2 separate regions of the Homo sapiens genome follow, and region 2 is linked to region 1. The links come from fine-mapping of genetic effects on gene expression. A gene starts in region 1. The other region holds a variant in brackets. All regions are shown on one strand. Distances are between the middles of the regions. Region 1 holds the start of USP47 (ubiquitin specific peptidase 47). Region 2 overlaps USP47 (ubiquitin specific peptidase 47).

Evidence for each region.
Region 2: its variant is fine-mapped to the expression of USP47 in blood mononuclear cells (TOPMed, PIP above 0.99). The same link has a PIP of 0.9 or more in whole blood.

The regions. Positions count from the first base shown.
Region 1 is chr11:11,837,272-11,845,619 of GRCh38, reverse strand. It overlaps USP47 (ubiquitin specific peptidase 47), which reads right to left and starts at 3,648. Exons shown (of 28, transcript NM_001282659.2): 1 at 3,396-3,648. The coding sequence starts at 3,434. It overlaps LOC107984311 (a long non-coding RNA gene), which reads left to right and starts at 3,779. Exons shown (of 4, transcript XR_001748134.3): 1 at 3,779-4,445; 2 at 6,063-6,101. RefSeq lists enhancers at 3,405-3,544, 2,843-3,706, 3,755-3,924, 3,707-4,572.
Region 2 is chr11:11,917,323-11,925,670 of GRCh38, reverse strand. USP47 (ubiquitin specific peptidase 47) reads right to left here. Exons shown (of 28, transcript NM_001282659.2): 9 at 5,420-5,515; 10 at 5,177-5,329; 11 at 2,780-2,947. Among named protein-coding and RNA genes, the nearest start is that of USP47, 80 kb to the right of the region's middle. The variant T/C (reference allele first, on the strand shown) is at 4,175.

The DNA.
Region 1 (8,348 bases):
TATAGTACAAAACCTACAAAAACAAAAAGCAAAGACAGAGAAACATACCAAGTCTTTGCTGTCAAGGAATTCACAACAAATAATATATAAAATGTAGATTACAGTTTCAGATCATAATAGATGTCGCCAAGCACCATCTAGTAATTGCCAAATGAATTCTATTCCTATATAAAGGTCTTCTAAGAGGGAGAAATCTCTAAGGTTAAAATGGTCAGAAAAGGCTATTTAGCATAAATGAGATATGAGGTACTTATGGAAAAATGTGTATGAAGGTTTTGAACAGGAAGGAGGGGGCAGCACAAACAGAAGTGAAATGCAAGTTAGAGAGAAACCTGTTTGACTACATTAAAAACCTGTTTCATGGGAGAAGAGATAAGCTGGAAGGACAGGTTGTGGCCAGAATCAATGGTACTGGGCCTTGAATACCAAGCTAAGTAATTTCAAATTTATCCTGCATAGAGTCTCTGTAGCAACTACTCATCTCTGCTGTTGTAGCCATACAAAATACTAAATAAATGGCATAGCTGTTTCAAGACTAAAATTTGAATTACACATTATTTTCATGTGTCACAGACTATTATAATTCTTTTGACTTTTTTTCTTCAACAATTCGAAAATGTAAAACTCATTCTTAACTCACAGGCCATACAAAACCAGGCTGTGAACTGATCTGGACCACAGGCCGTGGTTTGCCAATGCCTGTACTACACTAAGCTGTCTTCTTCAAGAGTCCTCTAAAGGTACATTTGTCCTTGAGTTTCAGGGACCAAAATATATTATTCACTGAACAACTATACACTCCAACACACGCACGCACACATGCCCACATCTAACCAAGATCTAAATCTAGCAGGGGTCAGAGGTTCCCTATACAAAGGCCCTCAAAAAAAAAAAATCTTTAGATTATTGATAATAAGCCATTAAAATAAATGCATGAAATTTTTTAATTTGCCATTTATTTTCACATATATATGTACTTAGAGAGTTACAAACTATTCTTACAGAGCCTCTAAATTACATGTAGGGCTCTGTAAAATAGGGTATAATCAAGGGAATAGTAGCAAAGGAAGTGAGTTCTAGCACTAGGTCTGCCATTTACTCATTATTTGACCCTGAACAAGTCACTTTCAATCTTCTGGGCCTAACTCCCTTAACTGTAAAGTGGAGGGGTAACTTAGATGATGATTATGCTTTCTCTTAGCTCTAGCACTGTATGATTCTACTACTGTTTAAAAGGACCTGTCCCGGAGCTTCAAGGATCACACAAAAGTGCCAATTAAGAATACAAAAAAGAAGAGAAAGGCCTTGACTAAATGAGTGGGCAGATAGGACAAACAGGTGGGAAAATGACCAGAAAAGTGGAGTATCACTAAAATCAAGAAATTGTTTTTTTAAAAAAACTATCAGATCCTGCAGAGAATTCGAACAGCAGAAGAGGCAAGAAAAAAAAAGTCAAAGAATTTGGTCATTTAAGAGATAACTGGTGATTTTCAGAAAAAGTTTCCAGTAATCCAGAAGCAAATATGGAACTGGAGGCAATCACTTTAATAAAGAATGAGTGTGGCCATCAAAGAAGAAAAAGCTAGTTGGCTAGCTATAAAAGGTAAGAACCACAGATCATGCTTCCAGGAATCATGAAAGGAACCAGGGAAAAAGAAGACTGAAGATGAGACTAAGGAATAGACAATAAAGGCATATGGTCCATAAAAAGAAGAAAGGGAAAAAACATAAGTTGTGATGAATTTAAAGCCTCAGGGAAGGGAATTAATCTTAAAAGGACAGGCATTTAATCTTTAAACTTCCGTTGCTGTTATCACTTTTTACACAACAGATGTTTCTGCAAAGCTCGGTATCTATTATCATATCATGTTTTCTATAAATCAAGTTATTAGGGAAATAAATCTAATGTTGGGTTTTCTTAAAGCAGAGTTCCACCTATATGATATTTTTCTAATGGTCAAAAAATTAAGAAAGAATTTTGTTTTTTATAAAAATGAAAACCAGCAATATGAAGCTCTAAAATGAAATACACATTTATACCTTTCTTACAGCACCTATCACTTCCTTCCTTGCATAAGAATTACTTACGTGGTAAAGTACCTAGTCCCTAATTGGAGTTCAACAAACACTAGTGTTCCCTTTCTTAGTAGCTCAGAAAGTTCCCAAGGCAAGAATTCTGATTAACTCATCTGTTTATCTGCTTTGCACAGAGTTGGTGACGCTTGATGAACAAATACTGACACATAACTCTCTGCCTTTTACAAAAATCGTCCTTGCAAAACAACTATCACTGCCCTTCTGACAAAGCTGGGAAAATACTTGTATCATACAGGTACATAACTCCAATAATATCACCCTTGCATACTGTCAGAGCTTGCTTAAGTAACAAAGAATTGCTACAAAACAAGTAAAACAGGCACAAAAAAATTTAAGAATCTGTAATGATCACTCATTAATTTCAAGATCGCACACAGTTAATTTCAATCCAACACTTGTCTCTATTTAAGGTATATGAGAAATAAAAATCCAAAGCATTAGCCTGATGATCAGCCAGTTAAAAATACACATTTGAATACGCCGAAGATATTTATAAAGCCAACAGAGATACTATTAATACGTTGAAATTCGCTGGCCAGTGCTGGATTCTACCCTAAATCTTCTACTACTATTCAAGAGAAGCCAAGTAGTCAAGGCTTCTCGTATCACTTGCTTTTAAGAATTTAAGAAGTCACTCAAATTGGCATACACAACCCAACCTCAAAAAAAAAAAAAAAAAAAAAGAGTTCAGCTCTCCATGTGGTAATGTTCTCCTATCTCCTTCCTTTACATTAATGTCCCATGTACTACTTTTCCACGATCTTCGGTAGGCCCCATTTAGGCAGGCCAATAGTACTACCAAGTAACAGGAGTTGAAAAAAGTCGTAACAGTTAAGTCTGCCCTCCCACAGATCTCACTTGGGTGTAGATTTCACAAGCGCTGAAAGCTATACGCTGCCACTGTCAAACCCAGAAGCAGCACCGTCACCCTGCCGTGCCCATAGGCAACTGTTCCAGAATGTTTTCTTTGAAATGATCTCTCCCGGCTCCACACGTTAAACAAGAACTTAAAAGGCCACCTTCTCCCCTAGAGCAGAACCTGATTCTTTCCCGTCCGCTCCTTTATTCGTCCAGCCCCATAAAACCCGAGGCGGGAGGTCCGCTCCCCGGCCCCTAGAGCCAGCGGGTCTCCCAACTGCTCGCCGCACCCACCGTCCACCCCCGACTGCCTCACGCCTCCTCATTCCCCCACAGCCGAGCCTGCACCCCGGCCGGGCCCGCAGCCGAACCCCGGCCCGGGCCTGTGTTGCCTCGAGCGGCCGCAGGCCTAAGGCCTAACCTCCTCTGGGGCCCCTCACCTCTTTCGGGACCAGTTGGTTCTCCTCGCCGGGCACCATCGCTGACTCCGGCCGCTCCTCTCCGCCCTGCCGGGGGAGGGTGGAGGGTGGCGGCGGCTCGCTAGCTCAAGAGAGAATGGCAGCGGCAGTCATCCTCTCCGCCGCCTGCGCTCCAGCAATAGCGGAGGCCTCAGCCTGGGCCTCAGACACCAGCGCGCAGACACCGACCCAGGGCTCCGCCGCCGCCGCCGCCGCTACCACAGCCGCCTTCGTCGTCGGCCCCTCCCCCAGCCCGCTGCAATCAATGGAAAAATGGCGGCGGCCGCTCTCGCGAGAATTCGGCCCGTCGGGCTCCAAGCCCGGCGCCTGGCGTCGGAGGTGGCCGGCACTTGTCGCTAGCTTCTAGTCACCTCGGCTCTTCCTCAGCCCCGGGAGGTACAGAATTGGCGAGACAGCCATGCAAACGCTTTTCGTTAGAGGAGAGCTGGACGTTCCATCTCGGGACTCCCTCTGCCGGCCGGGGAAGGACCAGGCCCACTGTCCTCCCTGCCTTCTCGGGCTCTTCGGACTCTCTGCCCTGCAGGGAAAGACTCGAGCCGAAAGCCCCATCTCTGACCCTAGCAACTCATACCCTTCTGGCTTCCCTTTAGCAAAGCGCCTGGACGTCATCCCCTCTTCAGATACCCCAGGCCTCGTCCTGGTAGAGACACCACCGCGGGCCACCTCCCGGCCCCCGCCCTTAGACACGGCTCTGGCCCTTCCAGTCAGAATGGACAGCGTTTTATTTGCTCCCGTTCACTCTCCTGACGTTCTTTTCCCCTCTCCCCACCCTCCCTCTCAAGGGCCCCCAGCTGGAGGGACCTCAGGGGCCACCCCCTGCTTGGGGAGGCAGCCACCCCTTCCCTTATGAAGCGGTGTCCTCACCGCCCGCCCCCCGCAACTACATTGGAGAGGCGCTCCCCTGCCCTCTTCCAGGGAACTTCCTTCTCCATCAGGGCCAAGTCTGAGACTGAGCTAGCCTTCCAAGAGTAGAGCTGCAGTATGCTTCAACCTGTGATCTCCGTTAACAAGGTTTTTAGAGAATTTTAATCTTCTCTAGTAGTAAGCATGGTGCTTTGTGTTATACTAAACAAAGTTTGCAGAAGTCATTTCTCCAAATCCTGCTTCCATTATGGAGACTCGGCGGGGCTCCTTCATGAAGACTTTTATGGATACAGTGATCTTACAGCATGCTGAGATAATATAATCTTGTCATGTTCCTAACACCCACAGCATTAACTGCCTGCACTTGTGTTCTCCAAACTTTTTTTTATTGTAATCCCGTTACCAAAAAAAAATCCATATACTTATATAAGTTTTATACGTGTCCTGCTGTGTGCAGAATTATAAAACATTTGTAAAATGTAAAAAGGCTAAGACAAAGATGACATAAACATTTAAAATAACTTAGTTATTTTCCATATTAATGGTATAAAAATCTTTGTTATTCTCACTAAAAATATTTAAGGAAATCAATATGATTGACTAGGTTTCGTTAGTTTTAAAAATCTTTAATACTTCGTGAAATAGTTATTAAAATATCTGATTGAACGTCAGGTTATTTTTGTACTTGGTTTTAATGGCTGTCATAAGCTGAAAAAAAGGTAACTCACAAAGATGTAGATCCTAAAGGAGGAAGTACATCTTTGGCCACTCTTCCTAATGCATGTTTAGAACGATTTAAAAAAAAAAACTGATATGAAAAAAGTTTCATTTTTATCCATTCCATCCAACAACCATGCAAAGGTTTTTATTGAAATTCAGCTAGTAGTGTTCCATCTTTCCTGATGTCAACCAGAAGATGTTGCATTTTTATATTTTTACAAATGGGTTCAAAGCTCTTTGGAATAAATTGCTTAGAAGATTTTTAAGAAGTTGAAAATTTCTATCTTCAAGTTTTAAGTATTCATGTATGAGTTTTGGGAGTTATAGATCTTGTCTTTAAGGTTTTGATATTTTGATTATCATGGATTGATTAAGATAAATTTTGACTTTTTAAAATATTGTATTAAGATTAGTTGTCTTGATTATTGAATTTTTGGCACCCCCCCCTTAAATTTTGTGCCCAAGGTGAACGGTTTTCACCTTGAAAACCATTTGCTTCACCATAGTCCCAGACTTGGGTGGCTCACATATATCATTTTTGCATCAAAATCACATGATGGAAATATTTCCAAACTTTTATTTTCAAAATGTCATCCCATGACTTAGTAAGGTGTCTTCTGTAGTGCTGGCCAGTGCTGTAGTGCTCACCCTAGAAGTAAAAATGTCATCTCTGTCATCTTTTTTGCTTATGCTTGCAATATTATTTCAAACTCATGTTGTCTTTCCAGAAATCCTTTTTAGTCACTTTCATTTTAGTAAAGGTTGATATAATGAAATAAGAATGTAATTGATAAATCTACTTAACCCAGCCCACATAAACTGGAATAAGTGACAACATACTAAAAGAAAATGAAGGAATCTCTGAATTCTCTACATTGCAGAACTCACACTTCTCACTCAGGAGTAGTGAGATGCTGGTGTTTATATATTCAATATAAGTAAGATTTAATTTTGCGTTTTTAGATTAAAATAAATATAAAAAGAAAGTCTAACATTTTCTTCCTACAATCCCCCTTTTCTGATTGCACACTCTTTTCTTTATAGGCCACTGGCTTGACTATTGCAGGAGAGCCTGATAAGATGGTAAGTATACAATGAATATTTGTGGAATAAGTATGTGGATTCATGAATTGATTAATGAATAAATGGACAAATACAAATATATGGCTACTCTTCCTAATATATTATTACTGAGATTACATGGATATGTGTTTATTTACTTTATATGTAAATGTTACGTCCCTTGTCCTCACCTCTCCTATAGGCTGTAAACTCATATATCTACCTTTTTAATGGCTCAATACCTCCCAAATTTAAACTTGACCTGAACAGAACATTTGATTTCCAAGCCTCCCCTACCTCCTGCAACATATCCTCTATCAGTTCTTCTCCACCTTGATAAATTACACTGTCATCAATTCAGTTTATCAAACCAAAAACCTGACACTCTTCATCTTACATTCAATCCCTTCATATGGGCTGTTGCTTCCACCTCTGAAACACATCTCAAATCCATCCACTTTTCCTTCTATCTACTACTGCACATCCCACTCCAATTACTTTATTCTTTTGCCTGTACTACTGCAGTTACCTCCTAACTGGGTTCCTGTTTCTAATCTTATCCCTCAACAATCCATATTCCATAGAGCAACCAGAGTGATCTTTCAAAAATATGTCATATCCCTTCCAAATCTTCCAAAGACATCTCATCCCTCTTAGAATAAAATTCATATTCTTTGCTATAGCCTGTGAGATCCAATGTAATCAAACCCATCTGTCTTGCTCCAGTCATCTGCCACTCTTCCTCTTACGCCCAATGACCCAGCCACTTTGCCTTTATTGAGCTTTTTAAACACATAAAGTTTGTCTCTGCCCCAAAGCCTTTGTAGTAGTTATTTCCTTTCCCTGAAATATTCTTCCCGTAGATCTTTTCTCTTATCTAGTTCAATCTTGTCATTTGGGCTTCTCAAATGTTAAATCTTCGAAAAGGCCTTTTATGATAATCCAATCTAAACTGGTTGTCCATAATGCATCCTCAATGTCTAGAACAATGCCTAGCACATAGTAGGTCATTAATAAATTGGTGTTGAATTAAAAACAAAAACCAAATGCCAAGACTGGTGTAGGTCAGAGGCTGATGATTTTTCTTATAATTTCTTTGGGAATATTTTCCTTTTCCTTTTCAAATGAAAATGTTCATAGTATAACCCCAGTCAAAGTATGAAAAAAAATCACACAAACCCAGTTTGGAGGACATTCTACAGGATGCCTGGTCAGTATTCCTCAAGACTGTTAAGGTCATGAAAAACAATGAAAAACTGAGACACTGTCATAGACCAGAGGAAACTGAGGAAATATGACAAGTAAATGCAATGTGGCACTCTGAATTGGATCCTGAAACAGGAAGAAGCCGTTAACAAAAAAAAATGGTAAAACTCAAATAAAATGTGTATTTGGTTAATATTTATGTACTAATATTCATTTCTTAGTTTTTAAAATGTTTTTAAAAAATTTAATACACTTTATTATTATTATTATTATTATTATTGAGATGGAGTTTTGCTCTTGTTGCCCAGGCTGGAGTGCAGTGGTGTGATCTTGGCTCACTGCAACCTCTGCCTCCTGGGTTGAAGCGATTCTCCTGCCTCAGCCTCCTGAGTAGCTGGGATTACGGGTGCATACCACCACGCCCAGCAGATTTTTGTTTTTAGTAAAGACAGGGTTTCACCATGTTGGCCAGGCTGGTCTCGAACTCCTGACCTCAGGTGATCCACCCGCTCGACCTCCCAAAGTGCTGGGATTACAGGCATAAGCCACCGTGCCCAGCCTTTGTTTTTATTATTCACAGCAAAGACTATATTTAAATAGTAAATGAGAAGAAATTGTAATTAAACTTTATTTTTTAGAGCAATTTTAGGTTTACAGCAAAATTGAGCTGAAAGCACAGAGAGTTCTCATACACCCACTGTCCCTACACACACACCCTCTCCACTATTGACAGCTGCCACCACAGTGGTACATTTGTTACAACTGATGAACCTACATTGATATATCATTATCATCCAAAGTCCATAGTTTACATTAGGGTTCGTTCTTGGTGTTGTACATTCCATGTGTTTTGATAAATATATAATGATATATATCCACCATTGCAGTATAATACAGAATAGTTTCACCGCCCTCAAAATCTGCTGTGTTCTGCCTATTAATCCCTCTGTCTCTCCTAACTCCTGGCATTCACTGATCTTTTTACTGTCTTCATAGGTTTACCTTTTCCAGAGTGTTGGAATCATGGTATGTGGGCTTTTCAAATTGGCTATTTCTTCTAGT
Region 2 (8,348 bases), 80 kb before region 1:
TATGTAGAAAATAAAGATTCCGCATAAAAAAAAAAACCCTAACAAGTAAATTCAACAAAAAGTGCAGGATACAAAATCAACACACACACAAATCTGTTGCATTTCTAAATACTAACAATTTATTGTTTCACTAACACTAACAATCCAAAAAGAAAATTAAGAAAACAATTCCATTTACAATAGTGTCAAAGAGAATAAAATTCTTAGGAATAAACTTAACCAAGGAGGCAGAAGACTCATACAGTGAAAAACCATAAAACATTAAGGAGGCCGGGTGCGGTGGCTCACGCCTGTAATCCCAGTGGGAGGCCGAGGTGGGTGGATCATGAGGTCAGGAGATCAAGACCATCATGGCTAACATGGTGAAACCCCATCTCTACTAAAAATACAAAAAAATTAGCTGGGCGTGGTGGCCGGTGCCTGTAGTTCCAGCTACTCAGGAGGCTGAGGCAGGAGAATGGCGTGAACTTGGGAGGTGGAACTTGCAGTGAGCCGAGATCACACCACTTCACTGGAGCCTGGGCGACAGAGCGAGACTCCGTCTCAAAAAAAAAAAAACCAAAAACTAAAACAAAAAAACATCAAGGAAAGAAATTAAAGACACAAATAAATGGAAAGACATCCTCTGTTCATGAACTGGAAGACTTAATACTGTTAAAATGTCCACACTATACAAAGTGATCTATAGGTTCAATGCAATCCTTATCAATATTGAAAATAGGAAAACAACAGAAAAAGTGAACAAAACCAAAAGCTGGTCCTTTGGAAGAAAAAAACCCCAATACAATTGGTAAATCTCTAATTAGGCTAACCGAGATTAAAAAGACGACACAAATTGCCAGTATCCGAAATGAAAGAAGGTTCATCCCTGCATTAAAAGGACATTAAAGGACAATTAAAAGGACAATAAAAGAATACTTTGTACAACTCTATGCCCCCAAGTTTGATAACACAGATAAAACAGACCAACTTCTTAAAAATCACAAACCACCAGAACTCACAAAGGAGAAACAGGTAACCTGAAAAGTCCTATATCTATTATAGAAATTAAATCAATAATTAACCACTTTCTAAAAAAGAAAGCACCAGGCCCAGATAATTTCTCTGGTGAATTCTACCAAATATTTAAGAAACAATACCAAGTTTCCACAATCTCTTCCAAAAATAAAGGCAGAGGGAACATTCCCTAACTTATTACATGAGCCCAACATCACCAAAAGCAGATAAAGACACTATGAGAAAGGAAAACTACAGATCAATGCATCTCATGAACACAGATGCAAAAATCCTCTGCAAAATATTAGCAAATCAAATCAACAAAGTATAAAAAGAAACACACACCATGACAAAGCAGGATTCATTCCAGGTATGCAAAGACAGCTTAACATTTGAAAATCAATCTATGTAATTCAGGCTGAAGAAGAAAATTACATACATGATCATATCAACTGACATAGAAAAAAAAATCTGGAAAAATCCAATACCTATTCATGATAAAAGTTTTCAACAAAGTAGGAAAAGAACATAAAAAACTGAAAGTCAACATCACACTCAATGATAAGAAACTGAAAGCTTTCCTCTGAAGATTGGAAACAAGGTAAGGAAGTTCTCCCTCACCACTCTATTCAACACTGCATTGGAAGTCCCACAGAGTGCAGTGAGACAAGAAAAAGGCATGCAGATGGGAAAGGAAGAATACTGTCTTTATTTGCAGATGAAATGAAAGTGTATGTAAAAACACAGGCAAGGGCCCAGATTTGGCTCTTGAGCCATAGTTTGCCAACTCCTGCTAGAATGCCATGTTTCTATACTCAGTTACAATGTACTTATTACATTATTCATTACATAGCAATCCCTGCTCAACTGTCTGCCCTGAATGAAACAGATAATTTTAAAAAGTAAAGGGTGGTGGTGATAATTAGAAGAATGGCCTTGGTCTAAAAACAGATTTATGAAAGTAAAACTCTATTTTTAAATATTGCCTTAAAAATCCCTATATTTAATGACTCTGTAATACCTGAGTTAGTGATCAGTCTTCACATTAGGAGTTTATTATTCACACCATGCTCAAGACGTTTTATCTATAATCTTTCCCTCAATAAAACAGAATATATGTGGAAAAAAATGGTCTAAAAAACCCTTAAAGTTATTGACACAGGGGCAAGATCCTATCCCAGAGATTATCCAATTCTGTGGTTTTCAAATGATAATCCATAGAACTATACCATTTTTCAAAGTGTCTTGAGGACTATCGCAGGACAGGGAAGAAAGACTAGGGGGCTTTGGCATTTCCCTACTCAGAAAGATCAGATCTATTATTAATTGTCTCATAAAGTGTTTCATGGCCAGACTTTTAAAAATCAATGACTAATCCAACATTTTACTTTTCTATATAGGAAAACTCAGACAAAATTTATAGACACTTGCTGCAACCTTAAAGGCAGAGGTGGTAATAGAATCTTGGTTTCTTGACTACTAGGCATCGTTTCTGTACCATCCAGCTTGCTTAGACAGTTTAAAGTATGGTCTCCCAAAAATTAATGTTCTTACCTGTAAGCAGTTTTTCCTGAAGTTTAATTATAGTCATATATATATATATATATATATATATATATATATATATATATATGTACAAAAAAACTATATTTGAGAAGTCTTAACTTTCAAAAATTAAGTTTCTTTTAAAGATAACTTTATCAGTCACAACAGCTATAGAATTATATAGGAAGTCAGAGATTATTCTCACTTTCAACTAAAAAATGCAAACTATAAAAGGTACCTTTTCAAGTCCAGATTTTGAGATCTTTTCAGTTCCACTATTGGTTTCAAGACAGATTCCTTCATCAACACCATCATCATTGGAGAAATCGTTGCTCATCTGATCACTGTGACAACTACCTTCATTTTCTGCTCCACTGTCAGTGCAACTTTCAGTCTGAGGAGATTTCTTAATAAGACATAATTATCTTAGTTATAAACCATATACAGAGAAAATATGTTCAACAAAACTTTGTACCTATATACTGCTAATATTTTCACACAATTTAACATATTAGTAAAAATATTTTACTTTGAGTACATTTATTTTCTCTTAAAAATTGAGACCTTAAGTAAAATTAAACAAGCAACAGTGTATTTTAAAAGCATTTCTATCATGTCCTTAAAATTCTAATACAACAAATTAGTGATTCAGAATTCTATTAAACCTCATTTATGTTTACTGTTACAACATAATGGTTGAAATTATCATTTCTTTTAGCAAAATCCACAAAATCAGAGAAGCTGAGCTCCAAAATGAGCTTCTGGTGTTCTCAAATCAGGAAAGAATATAATTTCTTTTCTTGAACAAAAAGTCCAACTCGGTTTATCAGTGCGTTAGGTATTACAGATAATTAGAAAGAGAAACAAGACATTGTATTCATCCTTAAGAACTTGATAGTCTTTTTACAGGAAGTAGAAATATAATGGTTACAGCACATTATACTTTTCTACTTTATGGTTTTAAACCACATTCACACAAATTTAATTTGAAGAATTCTCTTTGTTAGAAACCCCCAAACAATCCTTTCCCCCTTTAACGTTTTATATACATCTCTAAAAATGTTTTTATTTAAATAATTTGAGAATTTTCTAAGATGCAGGCTTTTGAAATGTATAAGGCATTGCATAGAAGTTCTTGAGTGAAACCAAGCAATATACAATAAGCACAAACTTTTTGCCAGGAACTCTTGTTGTAGGTACTACATCTAATATACAGTCTTCATCTCTCAAGAAGGTTAGGTTCAAGGATAAATGGAGATGAAATCCAGCTATAGATCTAAGTCCAAAGAGATATAATTCCTGAAACTTCTTCAGCTGAGCCAAAACATTTCTTGTCCCAAGAACTAAACCTAGAATTCTCTAGGAAGTTTCTACTAAGCTTCATATATAAGTTTTCCTTCTTTGGAAAAAATTTTCCTTTATGAGAAATATATTAGGCATATTCAGAAGACCAATCTACTACTGATCTCTATTTGAGTAGAAATCCTACAAAGATTATGTCTCCTCTCAAAGTCTGGCACACTTTGGGTAGATTTCCTAGCTTAAGCGCAACTGTCTGAGACATTATTTTAAATTAAACTTTTCAAAATGTTATTGATCATAGTTACCATTCAATGAACAGCTACTTCATCTA[T/C]GGCATCTGGAAATGAGGCTCAAAAGGTTTTATGAATTATCCAAGGTCAAGAGGCTAGCAAGTAGCAGGACAAGAATTTGAATCCACATCTAGCTATGCCTAAAACATGTGCTCTTCTACACCAAACTGCCTCATAGTACTCAATAGTACTAAATAAAACTTAGTGAATGTTTAAAATTATTTTTGAACTCCTGGGAAAAGGCATTTTTTATAACTATAGTAATCAGTTCCAGTAAAACAAAACAAAACAAAACAAAAAAAAAACGCTTCAGGGTAATTCTGAGAATAAATCACTTTGAAATAATTAGCCTAAGTGATTATAAGTATTCCACATAATAAAATCAGAAGAGTTTCCAAAATAATAGAGTGGAATATTGTAAGTCTTTCATTGAATAAGGATAGAAGAACCAGAGAATTTTGGCAGGCCAAAGTGTGGGAAGAAATTGATAAGCATTACATCATGTGTCACTTCAAATCCCATGCTTAAATTATTTAAATAAAGTTTCAAATTAAAAAAACTAAAAAAGGAAAACAGACAAATAGTAAATACAAAATAGTAGGTAAGTACAAGAAATTAAGCCCATGCTATTCAGTTGGTTCATTCATTCCATCATAGGCATTGTCTGCATTTATTATAGATCAGAAACATGAGTATGGCTTACCTTCAGGCTGGTTTCAATAACGACGAAATTATAAAATATAAGATTATCACTCAACTTCAAGAAATAATTCCAAAGCTGAGTTCCTTATTGTCTTTTCAAAGAGTATCATAAGTTACTCTGATCAAACAAGAATATTTAAAATATAATTTATGCAGTCAGGAAAAGCTTATACAAAGGTAAATCATTTTATTGAATTCCACATTAGAAAATAAGAAAGAAAAAGTTTCCATCAAGAAGACAGTCCAAATGACATCAGTGTTATTACCTCAAACAGCTCTTTCAAAACCATGACTGACTAATGTGGATTAATGAAAAATACTTTAAAATAACAAATATTTACCTCATCTTCAACATCAATAAAAGTACTCATATCTAGTTCCTCGGGAAATGTCATTCGATCATTCAGTTTAATCCTATGCATGGTTGTATAATCAAAATCGAATCTTTTCAGCTGTAAGGTCAGCAGATAAGGAAAATGCAAAAACCGAAGGCCCTAAAAAACAAACAACAAAAAGGGGGAGAGTCTATTGAATATGGAATATTATCTCAGATTCCTAAGTATTAATCTCTACATGGCATTTACCTTCCGTGCATCACACTTCTTCTTACAACGTTCACAAAAATACTGATTTGGGCCATCCAGAATCTCTGGCTGAATAAATGCATGCAATGCTTCTTCCTAGTTAGAAAAAAATTTGTTTTATAATTACTTAAAATATTATATTAATGACAAAATCCTGAATAAAAAAGACTGTAATTACTAAAAGTTATAAGTAGAATGGTTAGAAATTTAGGAACTCAAAATGTACCAAGGAAAATTATCAACAGTAAAATAATATTATCACTATAAAAATTAAGCAAAAAAAATTATTTCATTCTACACAAGATTTGCCTTTCTTAGTATTGCAGTATCACAGTCATTTCAACCTGATTTTCATTGACTTTACATTGCAGTGTTTGGCTAAATAATCTCTAAAAATATCCTCAGTCCTTAGATAAAAAGTAATTCCACACTTCTAAGAAAAGCAGTTGCATGCATCAATCTTCTTATAAAAGGAAGCATTTAAAACTGTACAGTAAATATCAATGTTCTCTAAAGAATTCACACTTTTCATACACTTAAAAATCATGTAAGCATCCTTAATCGCCATAGTTAGGATCAGTCAGTAATCTGCCACTGCACTAGTTATAAAGATTGAAAAACACTGTGCAACCTTCTGTGTGTGTGTGAGATACTGTTCCATTTGGAAATGTATAATGAGGATCCTGGATTGTTAATTTGGTAGAACCACGTGGTTCTCTTTTCTCCATACAGCATTACAACAGAAGTAAGAAACTTCATATAAATACTGTTAAAGAATCAGTGGCATAAAGTTAATTTTTATTTTAGTAATTGGTTTTTCACGATTAAAAAATTAGTTAATATAGCATATAAGATTGGACGCATAATCTCAAATTTCATCTGATGTTCTCTCTTTTCTTCACACATGGGCTAAGCAGAACTACTGATAATATTACACATAAACTAAAAGAAATGGAATCATTAAGACAGTATCTTCAAATATTTTTCTTTTGATATAGGACAAGCTGTTCCTCAAAAGATAAAGGAGCTTAATGGTCGTAGTTGCAAAATATCTGGCAAAGCTTAGAAAACTACTGTCCACATATTGTTTGATAGAGCTCACTTTGGAACAAGATAAAAATAAGAAAAGACATAGATATTCAAAGGTGTCTAAACCCATCTGATCCCCTATTTTGTTCTCAGAACACAAGGAAACAAGTGAAGAAACCAAACGGCTGGGTTTTTTTCCACATGACCATGCATTTTATTGGTGGTCAAATGACACATTTAGAAAAAAATTTTTTTTCCCTCTCAGGCATATTTTTGGGGGAAAAAGGAAAGTTCTATAAAAAACAACAGAAAAACAAGCTTTAAAGAAATTACATCTATAGCTTAACACAGACTGATACTAAATGTCAGGCTTTCCAAATAGTGGTAATTTAAACTGGTAAAAACTCAATATTCAAAAAAGGATGGGGGGAGAGGGAGAGTGAGATAATTATGTAACTCAAATTCTACTTTGGTGTGTGTGTATTGGTCTCCGGCTTATAGTTAATACCTAGAGATCTTTAAAAAAAATTAAAACTTGGAGAAAAGTTTAAAGAACAGAGAACTCTCAAATACTTTACTCATATTCATCAACTTTTAAACATTTTTGCCAATTTTGCTTTCCCTCGCCCAACCCAACATTATTATGTATCTTTGTTTTAGCCATTTGAGAGTAGGTTCACACCTCATCATGCTTTGCCTCTTAACTTCAATATGACTTTTTAAGAATAAAGATATTCTTACACAAACAGTAATCAAACTCTGGAAAATTTAATACTGATAAAGTACTTTCATCAGCCATATTCCAATTCTGTCAATTACCTTAACAATGTATTTCTCTCCATCTAGTACACAATCTGTCTCAAGGCCACAGATTTTGTTTGGTCTCTTGAGATTCCTTTAATCTCGAGGCATTCCAGAGTTTGCCTTTCTTTCATAACACTGATATTTTTTGAAGAACAGAGGCCACTTATTTTATAAAATGTTCTGCAATTTGGGTTTGTCTGATGTTCTTCATTATTAGATTTATACATTCCTTGCTAGGCTACTATGACATTAGCAAAGATGTGCCCTTCTAAGGGTAGCATAGTCACAGGCCATGATGTACCTAACTTTCTCTTTGGTGATATTAGCTTTAATTATCTGGTCAAGGTATTGTCCAGTCTCTCTACCATATAGTTATTATTTTTACTCTCGCGGCTAATAAGCAATCTGTAAGGAGATACTTGGAGACCATGCAAAAATCCTGAGCCTTACCAAATCTTCCACCCTTGATTTTAACATCCACTTACAGATTCCTGCCTAAATCAAATTTTAATGTTTGCTTTCTGAACCAACTTGAAAATCTTTTTAATAGGCAATTTAAGCCCACTCATATTTGATATGACTGGTATGCTTGGTCCTATCTCAGTCACTACTGTGTAATTACTGTGTGTGTTAGGTAATATTTATTGTGTTCCTTTGTTATTTTTTACATTTTCTTTTGGTATTTAGCAAGGTTTGTAATTTTATTCTACAGTTACTTTTGCATTTATAGTTTTGTTAGTGTCCTTGGACCTCTTTTTTTCCCACCCACCCCCACCCTGTTTACTCTTTCTTAAGCTTTCAGTGTCTGCCAGTTTTAAATGGTCTCCTTTATTCCCCACCCACACAACAGTCTGTGATCTTATTCTGCTCTCCCTTTCTCTCCCCCTTCTAAAAAGTGGTATTATTTGTACTTTGTCTAACATGTAACATTACATACTACTCTGCTGTTCCCGTGTTCCCACCCTTGTATTTAGGCCTTAATTTAATATAGTAAGTGCTCACAGTTCTTTTGCCGAAGCTGCCCGTGATCTCTTGGTTGGGTTAAGCTCATCCTCTAATGAACTCCTCAATGGCTCATGGATATAATACCCAATGA